Regions from separate parts of the Homo sapiens genome. Here region 1 is linked to region 2. Evidence: fine-mapped expression QTL. A gene starts in region 2. The other region holds a variant in brackets. All regions are shown on one strand. Distances are from middle to middle. Region 1 has its middle 87 kb from the start of LINC01739. Region 2 holds the start of FOXD3-AS1 (FOXD3 antisense RNA 1).

The links. PIP is the estimated chance that this variant, and not a neighbour inherited with it, causes the effect. A credible set is the group of variants that fine-mapping cannot tell apart.
Region 1: its variant is the best candidate, but not a certain one, in a credible set for the expression of FOXD3-AS1 in skeletal muscle (FUSION, PIP 0.84).

Annotation. Positions count from the first base shown.
Region 1 is chr1:63,096,481-63,101,858 of GRCh38, forward strand. No RefSeq gene overlaps it. Among named protein-coding and RNA genes, the nearest start is that of LINC01739, 87 kb to the left of the region's middle. The variant T/C (reference allele first, on the strand shown) is at 3,002.
Region 2 is chr1:63,321,227-63,326,604 of GRCh38, forward strand. FOXD3-AS1 (FOXD3 antisense RNA 1) reads right to left here and starts at 3,215. Exons shown (of 3, transcript NR_121637.1): 1 at 3,129-3,215; 2 at 141-237. It overlaps FOXD3 (forkhead box D3), which reads left to right and starts at 1,341. Exons shown (of 1, transcript NM_012183.3): 1 at 1,341-3,902. The coding sequence starts at 1,833. The coding sequence ends at 3,269. RefSeq lists silencers at 949-1,258, 1,379-1,458 and an enhancer at 1,782-2,471.

The DNA of each region.
Region 1 (5,378 bases), 220 kb before region 2:
TAAGAGAGCAGCAGGGAACAGATTCTCCCTCAGTGCCTTCCAAAGGAGCCAACCCTGTCAACACCTTGATTTCAAACTTCTAGCCTCCAGAATTATGAGACAATGGAATTTCTATTGTTTTAAGCCATCCAGTTTGTTGGACTTTGTTATGGCAGCCCTAGGATATGAAGACAATGACCGTTCCCAACACCCCACCTTCTTGCTACATCACTGATAGTAAAAATGTAACGTGGTCATTATTAAAGTATAGATTGTAACTTATAGTTAGTAGACTAATAGTCTGGAAGTGGAGACAGACATGTAAATATGGATTTCAACACAGCGTGGTAAGTGCCATGATGGAGGTGTGCACAGGCCTCTGTGGGTCACAGAGAAGGTCAGGGTTCAAGTACAGCTGTCCAGAGCAGTGCAGACAGTGCACTCAGGAAAACACAAATGAGTCCAGTTTGGCTGGAACGGATCATTCTGTGAAGGAGAAGAAAAGAGTGGAAAGAAAGGTGAAGCTCTGCTCATTGAAGGACTCTGAAAAATGGACATTGATATGGTGCTTTAGACTCACTCATCAAAGTATAGTCTGTGGACCAGTAGATCTGGCATTACTGGAAGCTTGCTAGAAATGCAGATGCCACTCTGGGAAACACTGTGTAGTGCCCTACTCCTTCAAGTGTGGTCCTGCAACCAGCAGCAGCAGCAGCAGCTGGAGGCTTGTGAGAAAGCCAGCCCCACTCCAGACCTGCCAAATCAGAATCTGCACTGGGCAACAGGATGCCCAGATGATTTGCTTATACACCAAAGGTGAGAAGCACCGTTCCAGGGCATATTAGCCCTCTGCTGAGCCATAATGAGAGGAAGTAAGTGGGTGAGAAGTTAGCTGAGGTGGGAGGTCTCAGAAGGTGGTGATACACTACGGCATGAGGGAACAGTATGAGCAAAGACATCGAGGTATAAAACAGCAGCTCAGTTTTATTGTACCAGGTACTGTGCTACATGCTTTCTATGCACTCATCTTTTGATCTCCATAGTCACCCGGTGTTTTTATTCCAACAGATGGAGGGGCAGAAAGGTGGATAACTGCTGGGTGCAGTGACTCATGCCTGTAATCCCAGCACTTTGGGAAGCCAAGGCAGGTGGATCACTTGAGCTGAGGAGTTCAAGAACAGCCTGGGCAACATGGGGAAACCCCATCTCTCCAAAAAATACAAAAGTTACCCGGGTGTGGTGATGTGCACCTGTAGTTCCAGCTACTTAGGAGGCTGAGGTGGGAGGATCATTGAGCCTGGGAATTGGAGGCTGCAGTGAGCCATGATTGCACCACTGCACTCCAGCCTGGGTGACACAGTGAGACACTGAGAAAGAAAGAAAGAAAGAAAGAAAGAAAGAAGAAAGAAAGAAGGAAAGAAAGAAAGAAAGAAACAAAGAAAGAAAGAAAGAAAGAGAAAAAGAAAGAAAGAAAGAAAGAAGGAAAAGAAGGATGGGGGAGGGGGGAGGGATAGCATGGAGAGATATACCTAATGCTAGATGATGAGTTAGTGGGTGCAGCGCACCAGCATGGCACATGTATACGTATGTAACTAACCTGCACAATGTGCACATGTACCCTAAAACTTAAAGTATAATAATAAAAAAAAAAGAAAGAAAAGAAGGAAGGAAGGAAAGATGGAAAGGAACGAAAGATGGAAAGGAAGGAAAGATGGAAAGAAACGAAAGGAGAATGACCAGCCCAGTGTCACTGGACACGAGGTGGGGATGTAAACTCAGGATTCCTCAACATCCTTCAAATACCCCAAGCCTTCATGCCTTGTGTAGCAGATTCCCTCTACAAGGAATTGCCTTCTTTATCTGTTAAATCTCATTCATTTTTCCAGATCCAGCTCCAAAAGTCACCTCCTGTGTGACCTCCTTCCCAGTTTCTCCCGTCGTTAGTTACATACTCTGTGATGATCCTGAACATCTCTTTCATACCACAATGATAGAATTTGTCATGGTCTGGCTTATTTGGTGCTCCCTCTGCTCTGTTCAACCCCAAATAGAAGGTGATGTTTTTGGAAGTGGAGGAGGCATGTCTCATTCATCTCAGTCTCCCTAGTGCCTAGTTTGGTGCTTCATGCCTAGTAAACACGAATATGGGTTTATTAAAGGTGGACGTGGGTGCCAACTCTGGCTGCATTCCTTACCAGCTATATGACCTTGAGCACATTCCTTAACCTTTCGAGCTTCAGTATTTGCATCTATGAAATGGTGATCATGAAACCTACTCATAAGGTTGATATGAGATATGTAAAAACGCCATGCACACTGCAGGGCACAGAGGAAGTGTGTGATAAATATCTTTTAAGGGATAGAATAAATGAGTAAGCTGACCTGGTGTAAAAGCAGATGGTAATAATAAACTACTACCTATAGAGTCTGTACCAGGCACTATTTAGGGTAAATTATGTACATTACCTCCCCATCCTTCAAATGCCACCTATTGTTATCATTATCATCATTTTATTTTAATAAGTAATTAAACTGAGTCCTATATAGGTTAAGAAGTTTCCTTAAGGTCAAAGAGAGAACCAGACTGGGACTCTGATCCAAGTGGGTCCAAAGTCTAAGCTGCTAGAAAAAAAAAAAAAAAACCCAAAAGGCTTGACAAAAGAACCTCCCCATTGATATAGTGGCCCATCCAAAGATCACACCACTGTACCTTTAACCTCCAGAGATAGAACTGTTTTATCAAATTTTTACCAAAACCTCGAAAAAATCTGAACACTTTTTAAATTAGATTCCTCAATACTAGAAAAATACAGCTGTTAGCAGTCACATGAGACCTGGCTGTTCTTCATGAAATACAAGCTGTGTTAATGGGAGGTATGTTAAAGCTGTTTGTTGCTGTACAGCACTGTGTGTATAACTAAAACAGTCAGGAGCTAGCTTCCCACGTTCAATGAAATGTTTACAGACAGACAAGTTAATAGGCATAAAAGCTATATCCAAAGCATGAGTGATATTCTTTTGA[T/C]GTCAGCTCCATGGAATCCTTCCTGTTACAGTAGTAAGAATTTTTTTAAGGAGATTATATTATAGAATCAGAAAGTGCTTTTCTTTACTGTATGCCATTCCTGTTTCTCAGTTATAAGGGAAATGAATTTAGAAGTTTAAAAAAATCAAATTATTTATCTTAGTGTTCCCTGAAGTTTGCAAACTGCTGAGCAATGTGGTGCTTTGCCCTACATTCTCCTCATTGAGTCTATCTGGGTAAATTAATTACAAGACAATTCTTAGGAATTAAGTGTATTTTAAGTTCAGAGGCATCTGCTTAGAGACTTCTAATACCGCTAAATAGTCCCTTTGGAAATGCACTCGTTAGTATGAGTGGTATAATTTTCATTTCCGCTGGCACCATGGCGTATGACTTCTTCAGTTTCAGCTACCCTCTGATTGACCTGCCAAGGGCATAAACCACTCTGAAGATGTTCCAGCACCATTTGTGCTTCTCCAGTAGGTATAAGAAACTGGATTGATTTGCTCTACATCAAGGAATAATTTAAAAGATAATTTTTCCTGGTTTTAATGTGGTACATTCTCTGTGTAAACACACACACACACACACACACACACACACACACACACACTAGCCTGAACTTATAATAAGCTTATTGGGCAATAGAACAAAACAAATAAACATTTTCTTAGATAACAGATATTATATATGTCCTAAGGACATGAATTAGGAAAAAATCCATGGTGTGATTAATCCATTATGTAAAATGAAAATGCATTTTTAAGTCGAATGCCAATAAGATGTTGGCAGGGAATGGAAGGGGGGGTACTTGGAACACAGAGAACTGAAATTTACATTTGGGATTCTTTCCTCCCCTCTGAAATGAGAATGTGGTGAGTTTTATCACTTGATTCTTGTGAATCTGCTGTGTTCTGGTTTGGAAGAATTCTGAATCAGGGTGATTTTAGGACAGCTGCTGTTTCCCAGGCTCAAAACAAATAGAAGCAGAGTGTGGCCAGCTCTCCATAATTCCCTCAGTTATCCTCGGCATGGCTCTGCAGGGGCATCCCTAGAAAGACACAGGAGAGCCACTCACCATTCAGCCACCCTGTCGACAGATCTAATTTGGAAAGATCAGGTGTAGAGAAAAGAAAACAGTTCTTCGAATAAAACAGAGGCCAAAAAAAAAAAAATGCATAAAATAATCAGAATTTTTAGATATACACAGAGCTGGCATTCAGTTACCTCCAGAAGCACAGTTGACCCTGTGGAATGTCATCAGGTCAATCACTTTCTGATAATGATAGTAAATGGACATTTATACAGAGCTTTAGTGTTTATAAAACATGTCTATATATGGTGTATATCATTTGGACCCAATAACAATCCCATGATGAAGGTTATTATTAGAACTATTAAGAACACAGTCTTTGGAGTCCTGAAAATTAGGTTAAAATCCTAGCCCTCAATGTACTAACTGGACCACCTTGGGAACTTACTTACCTTCTCTGATGCTGTAATAGGAATAAATGAGATCACATGGGGAAAACATTTTCCCAGTGCTTGACACTTGGTATGCTCACAATAACTGGTAGTAGTTGTTGTTGTTATTATCTACTATATTGTGTTGCCTGCTTCAGTGATTTCAAAAGCTCATTCTTTTCCAATCCAAAAATATATTTCTCAAAATGTGGCTTGGAAACCAGTTTCTGAACCTTCTTAAGCAAACATATGTATACGTTGAATGAATGAATGAATGAATGAATGGAAAGAATTCTAGCTCAGGATCAACCAGAAAAAGTATAATGCATTGGGAAGTATTCTATTCATTCAGCAAACATTTATGTCTGAACTTAGTATGGACCAGGAACTATCATAGGCCAGCACACTTAATCTTCTTAGCAATTCTATGAATTAGACATTGTCTTCTTTCACAGATTACAAAAACAATTAGTCCAATAACTTACTTAACTTGCATAGAGACACACAGCCACTACATGACAAAGCCTGGGGTTGAAACCGGGTCTTTGGATTCTTGGTCCAGTGCTTATTCTCAGCACCTTGGCCTCTTGATCCATCGCAAGGATGACACATCCTGTTCATTTCCACATGAGCAGCCTCCACATTGAGACACGATTTTTTTCTAAGCCTAATTCACTTGGCTATTCAGCATGACTCTTGGGTATATAAAGCTATGTCATATCTGATAACATAGTAAAAATGTTGATACAATTAATAAACCTTTATCTACAATATAGTGCAAATCATGGCATACAGAAAAAAATAAAGAGCTGACATGAACTCCCTCCATGATCCCCATTCTCATGCTTTCATACCAGCCACTCCCCACACCTTGCTTACTGATTTAGAGGAAAAGGAGGAAAGAAGATTGACA
Region 2 (5,378 bases):
TCACCGCGTCAAGAGCACTGACTTTCCTTGGAGGTGTGAGGTCCACGCACCCCAGCCACGCACTTGGGGGTCGGTTTGCGGTGCCTCCCCCTCCAGTCCCAGTGAAATCCCCACAGTTTTTCCTACTATCACTGACTTGCCTTGCACTCCGCGTGCATTGGCCACACATCCTCGCCTCCTCCACCCGCTCCGCCGCCGGTTTTCTTGGAAGTTAAATCTTGGAGGATTTGTCCACACCTTAAGAGAAGAAAATCCACGTTAGCTGGCAGCAACGGAGATCCCAGCATGCTGGCATGCCCAAGTCTGCCCAGGTTCCCCCAAGGCCATGCCCGCCGCCCGGGAAGTCACTGCCCGCACCCCTCACGTTTCTTCAGCCGCCCCTGGGCGCTGCGTCTAACCTGAAGACACCAGGCCTCTTCCCGGATCCACTCGACTTACCCAGGCCGCTGCCAATCCCAGCTCCTTCCCCAGCGCCTCATTTCCGATTTTTTCATATGCTAAGTCGTTTAACAACTCCAAGTAGCCAGTTATGGCTTCTTTATTTATAGGTTCCCTGCTATTTTACGTCGTTTTTATTTCTCTCGGCAACTATTCTAGTAGATTAATCAATAGCCATTTTCTGACCTTCGGGAACCCCAGCTGATGCTTTTTGTGGCCGCACGAAAAAATACATACAGGAAAACACGCCCGCATCAAGCCGGGAAAGAGCAGGTAGGACCTGAGTGGTTTGGTTGGGGGAGGGGGAAAAAGACATCTCAGCAGGTGTCTTCCCCGGAATGAGCACTGAGGCCAGAGGGGAATCTGAAATCTAATTAGCAGGAGGGAGCCGGGTGCGCTGCTCTTACTCTTTAAAGCTAAAAACAATGAAACAAAAAGCAAAACAGAGACTAAGTTTTGCTTTTTAAAACACGATATGGGAACCTCGTTCTAGGTCGCCCAGTCCCTGTCTAAGGAGTGTGACAAAGTGGGGGGGAGAAGGGCGGAAGGGAGAGGGGGCGGGGAAGGCAGGGCAGCGACAGTCGCACAGTCCCGCGGACGCTCCCAGGCCCACGCCCTGACTCGCTCACACCCACCCACACTCACACCCACCCGCTCCCTGGGCCCCAGGGCCCGGATCCAGCCTGGGTGGGGGGGTCTCCGGGCGGGCCGCAGCGCCCTCCGTGCCCCGGGGATGCTGGCGCACAGTGCGGAGCGGAGTTGCGCGTCTCTCGTCCCTTTGTTGACAATTCCCTGAACCAACTTGAGTTTGGCCGGCTCGGCCGCGGCCCTGACGTCACGCACGGTCACGTGGCCCCGCCTCCCGCTGGATCTTTAAGTAGAAAGTAATCTATCAGGCCAGTCCTTAAAACGGGACTTTCGACTACCGGGGCTTCGGCGTCCCTGACACCCAGCCCCCTGCCCCCCCGCTACTGTCCCTGCCCGCGCCCTCCCGAGCTGCTCGGCGCCCGGCGTCCCGCGCCCGCCTGGACCGCTCCTGCGCCCCACGCCAGGGCCAGAGGCCGAGGAAGGCGGGCTAAGTGAGGGGGCGCGGCGTGGAGAACCGCCGGGGCCGGGAGCGGTAGCGAGCGCCTAGTACCGAGCGCCAGGGACGGCAGGAGTTCGCGGAGCGCGGCCGCTGGGGGCGGACGGCAGAGCCCGCGCCACGCGATGCGGGGCCGCCGAGTGTGAGCTGAGCCCAGCGGGCCCCAAGCCACCTGCGGCCCCCTCCCCTCTCCCTGCCCCCCATCTTTCGGGGGCACTCAAACCCTCTTCCCCTGAGCTCCGTGGCAGCCCCCGAACACCCTCATCGCCCGCTGCCCCCTCCCCGCCGCCGCTACCAACCCCGAGGAGGGATGACCCTCTCCGGCGGCGGCAGCGCCAGCGACATGTCCGGCCAGACGGTGCTGACGGCCGAGGACGTGGACATCGATGTGGTGGGCGAGGGCGACGACGGGCTGGAAGAGAAGGACAGCGACGCAGGTTGCGATAGCCCCGCGGGGCCGCCGGAGCTGCGCCTGGACGAGGCGGACGAGGTGCCCCCGGCGGCACCCCATCACGGACAGCCTCAGCCGCCCCACCAGCAGCCCCTGACATTGCCCAAGGAGGCGGCCGGAGCCGGGGCCGGACCGGGGGGCGACGTGGGCGCGCCGGAGGCGGACGGCTGCAAGGGCGGTGTTGGCGGCGAGGAGGGCGGCGCGAGCGGCGGCGGGCCTGGCGCGGGCAGCGGTTCGGCGGGAGGCCTGGCCCCGAGCAAGCCCAAGAACAGCCTAGTGAAGCCGCCTTACTCGTACATCGCGCTCATCACCATGGCCATCCTGCAGAGCCCGCAGAAGAAGCTGACCCTGAGCGGCATCTGCGAGTTCATCAGCAACCGCTTCCCCTACTACAGGGAGAAGTTCCCCGCCTGGCAGAACAGCATCCGCCACAACCTCTCACTCAACGACTGCTTCGTCAAGATCCCCCGCGAGCCGGGCAACCCGGGCAAGGGCAACTACTGGACCCTGGACCCGCAGTCCGAGGACATGTTCGACAACGGCAGCTTCCTGCGGCGCCGGAAACGCTTCAAGCGCCACCAGCAGGAGCACCTGCGCGAGCAGACGGCGCTCATGATGCAGAGCTTCGGCGCTTACAGCCTGGCGGCGGCGGCCGGCGCCGCGGGACCCTACGGCCGCCCCTACGGCCTGCACCCTGCGGCGGCGGCCGGTGCCTATTCGCACCCGGCAGCGGCGGCGGCCGCGGCTGCTGCGGCGGCGCTCCAGTACCCGTACGCGCTGCCGCCGGTGGCACCGGTGCTGCCTCCCGCTGTGCCGCTGCTGCCCTCGGGCGAGCTGGGCCGCAAAGCGGCCGCCTTCGGCTCACAGCTCGGCCCGGGCCTGCAGCTGCAGCTCAATAGCCTGGGCGCCGCCGCGGCCGCTGCGGGCACAGCGGGCGCCGCGGGCACCACCGCGTCGCTCATCAAGTCCGAGCCAAGCGCGCGGCCGTCGTTCAGCATCGAGAACATCATAGGTGGGGGCCCCGCGGCTCCTGGGGGCTCGGCGGTGGGCGCTGGGGTCGCCGGCGGCACTGGGGGTTCAGGGGGCGGCAGCACGGCGCAGTCGTTTCTGCGGCCACCCGGGACCGTGCAGTCGGCAGCGCTCATGGCCACCCACCAACCGCTGTCGCTGAGCCGGACGACTGCCACCATCGCGCCCATTCTTAGCGTGCCACTCTCCGGACAGTTTCTGCAGCCCGCAGCCTCGGCCGCCGCCGCTGCTGCGGCCGCCGCTCAAGCCAAATGGCCGGCGCAATAGGGACGCGCCAATGGCCGGGACCCAGGGTCCGGCGGCGGCCTCGAGCAACAAATGCACCTCCAGGCTGCGCGCCCTGTCCCAAGCCCGGTCCCGGTCCCGCTGCCCAATCCTGGACTCTGCCTCTCCCCAATTTCCTTTCCCCTGAGCCCCCAACGCCTACCTTCCGCGGCCTCCATCCCCTCGCGCACACCTAAGCTGGTCGAGCAAACTCACCGCGCGCCCGCCGGGGATAGCTTTCCATACAGGTAAAACCGAAAACCGAATTTTCCAAAAATGCACCCCGACGGCGCCTGCTCTTAGTACCGTGGGGATGGGAGGGAAATTCTTTGTATATATTTGTAAAAAAATTATTGACTTTCCTTTTGGGGTTTTTATTTTTTTAAGAAAAAACAAATTCCGTAGATTTAGAGCTCTGAACTTTCATTTTTTTTGAAGGTTCACTCTCCGAAGTTTTATCTGAGAAAAGAATGTATAGAGACGTTGGGAGATTTTAAATATAAAAAATTTTCAAAAAGGCAAAAAGTGTCATTCTATTATAAAAGTCTGTTTATATATGAATGAATATATATGGTATTCTAAATGTTATTCCATCGTGTTGTACACAACTTTGTAAATAAATTTTTAAAATGCCCAGCCTAGTGTTTTATTTAGTTGTCTGAAGTAAATGGCAAGATTTTTAAATGGTATTTATTTGCCTTTTCTCCTCCCCAGAAAATCAAGGAATTTCAAGTAATGGCCTTTTCAAACTTTTTAAATTCATAATTTGAGTGTAAGAAAATTTTAATTGGAGAAAGGAAATAGTATGCCTAATTTAAATTGTGTTACTATTTTTCTTTTAGTTTTCACATAAAATCAGGATGTGAGTGATATCATTCATATCAACCCATTAAATCTAAATGACCAGACATTTCTGTAGATAAAGTAAGCTGTCATTTAAAAAAAGAAACCGAAACAACAGCAGTCTTTAAATTTTTTTAAAAAATGACTAGACTTGTATCTTCCACAATGAAAACTTCCCAAATGAGAGAGTTCTTGGTCATTTCAATTATCCTTTGAAAAGTAAGTAAATTCCAAACATCCCTCTTTTTAACATTTAAATCTTAGATTTTTGAAATTATTTCTTTTCATTCCTTAAGTGGAAGTGGTAAATAGACCCAGCTGGTTTTAAAATTTATGTTAAGGCACTTTACATTTTGCAGTGGGATTTTATTTATGTTCATCTGATAGATAATACATAGTTTTGTTTTCATAATATTTTCAAATAAGATATCTCATTTATATGGCAATAATCAATCCACAACATAATTGGATTTCTGAAGGGGTCCTATAGATGCTTCCTCTCCCTCCAACCCAAAGCCTTTCTGAAGGCCAAGGAATGGTGGCCTTAATACCCTTTTAAAAACAGCTGAACATCACCTCTCTCCCCTTTTTTTTCTTTACCTTAGGCTAGGTTAGTGTGAAATGCGACATCATAGGGCAGGAATGGGGAAGGTCCTTGTAGATTATTTTTAATTTGCATTTCAGCTGTTAAAAACTTTTAAAAGAAAGTATGAAGGTAGAAATGAAACATCTTGATGTGGAAGGCTGGTTCTCACCACCATCAGCATATCCTCAAAAGGCATCAATTCTAATTATTTTGTAATTAATTTAGCTGTTACAATTACTTGTGCGAAATCGCTTTTAAAAACTGGAGCGAGTAGCAGTGCTGTCGGCTCGGCCCTGCGCGCGTCCTTTTGGTTAATCCCGGCCAGTCCCCGGTGTTGTCGTCCACTTTGCCTCCCTGGTGGTGGAGATGCCTCCCCGTCTCGGATCCCACCTCATTTCTCCGCTGTCGACGTGGGCTGGGGGTCGCTTTGAAAGACACTTCCTTGCAAATACCCAATCTGTTTTCCTGGTAAACGGTAAACATTATTGTGTCTTGAGTAAACATTCCTTCGGGATCAGGGTCCTAAAATAAAACAAGCTGCCGGGGGTGAGATAGTTTAACTTGATAAACAAGAACCTGATAACCACCGCCGAGAGAGGAGCAATGGTAACCTTCACCGAGAGGAGATTATGGACCACACGGTCTCCGGGCGGGTCCCTTCTAATCTCCTTTTACAAGGAAAA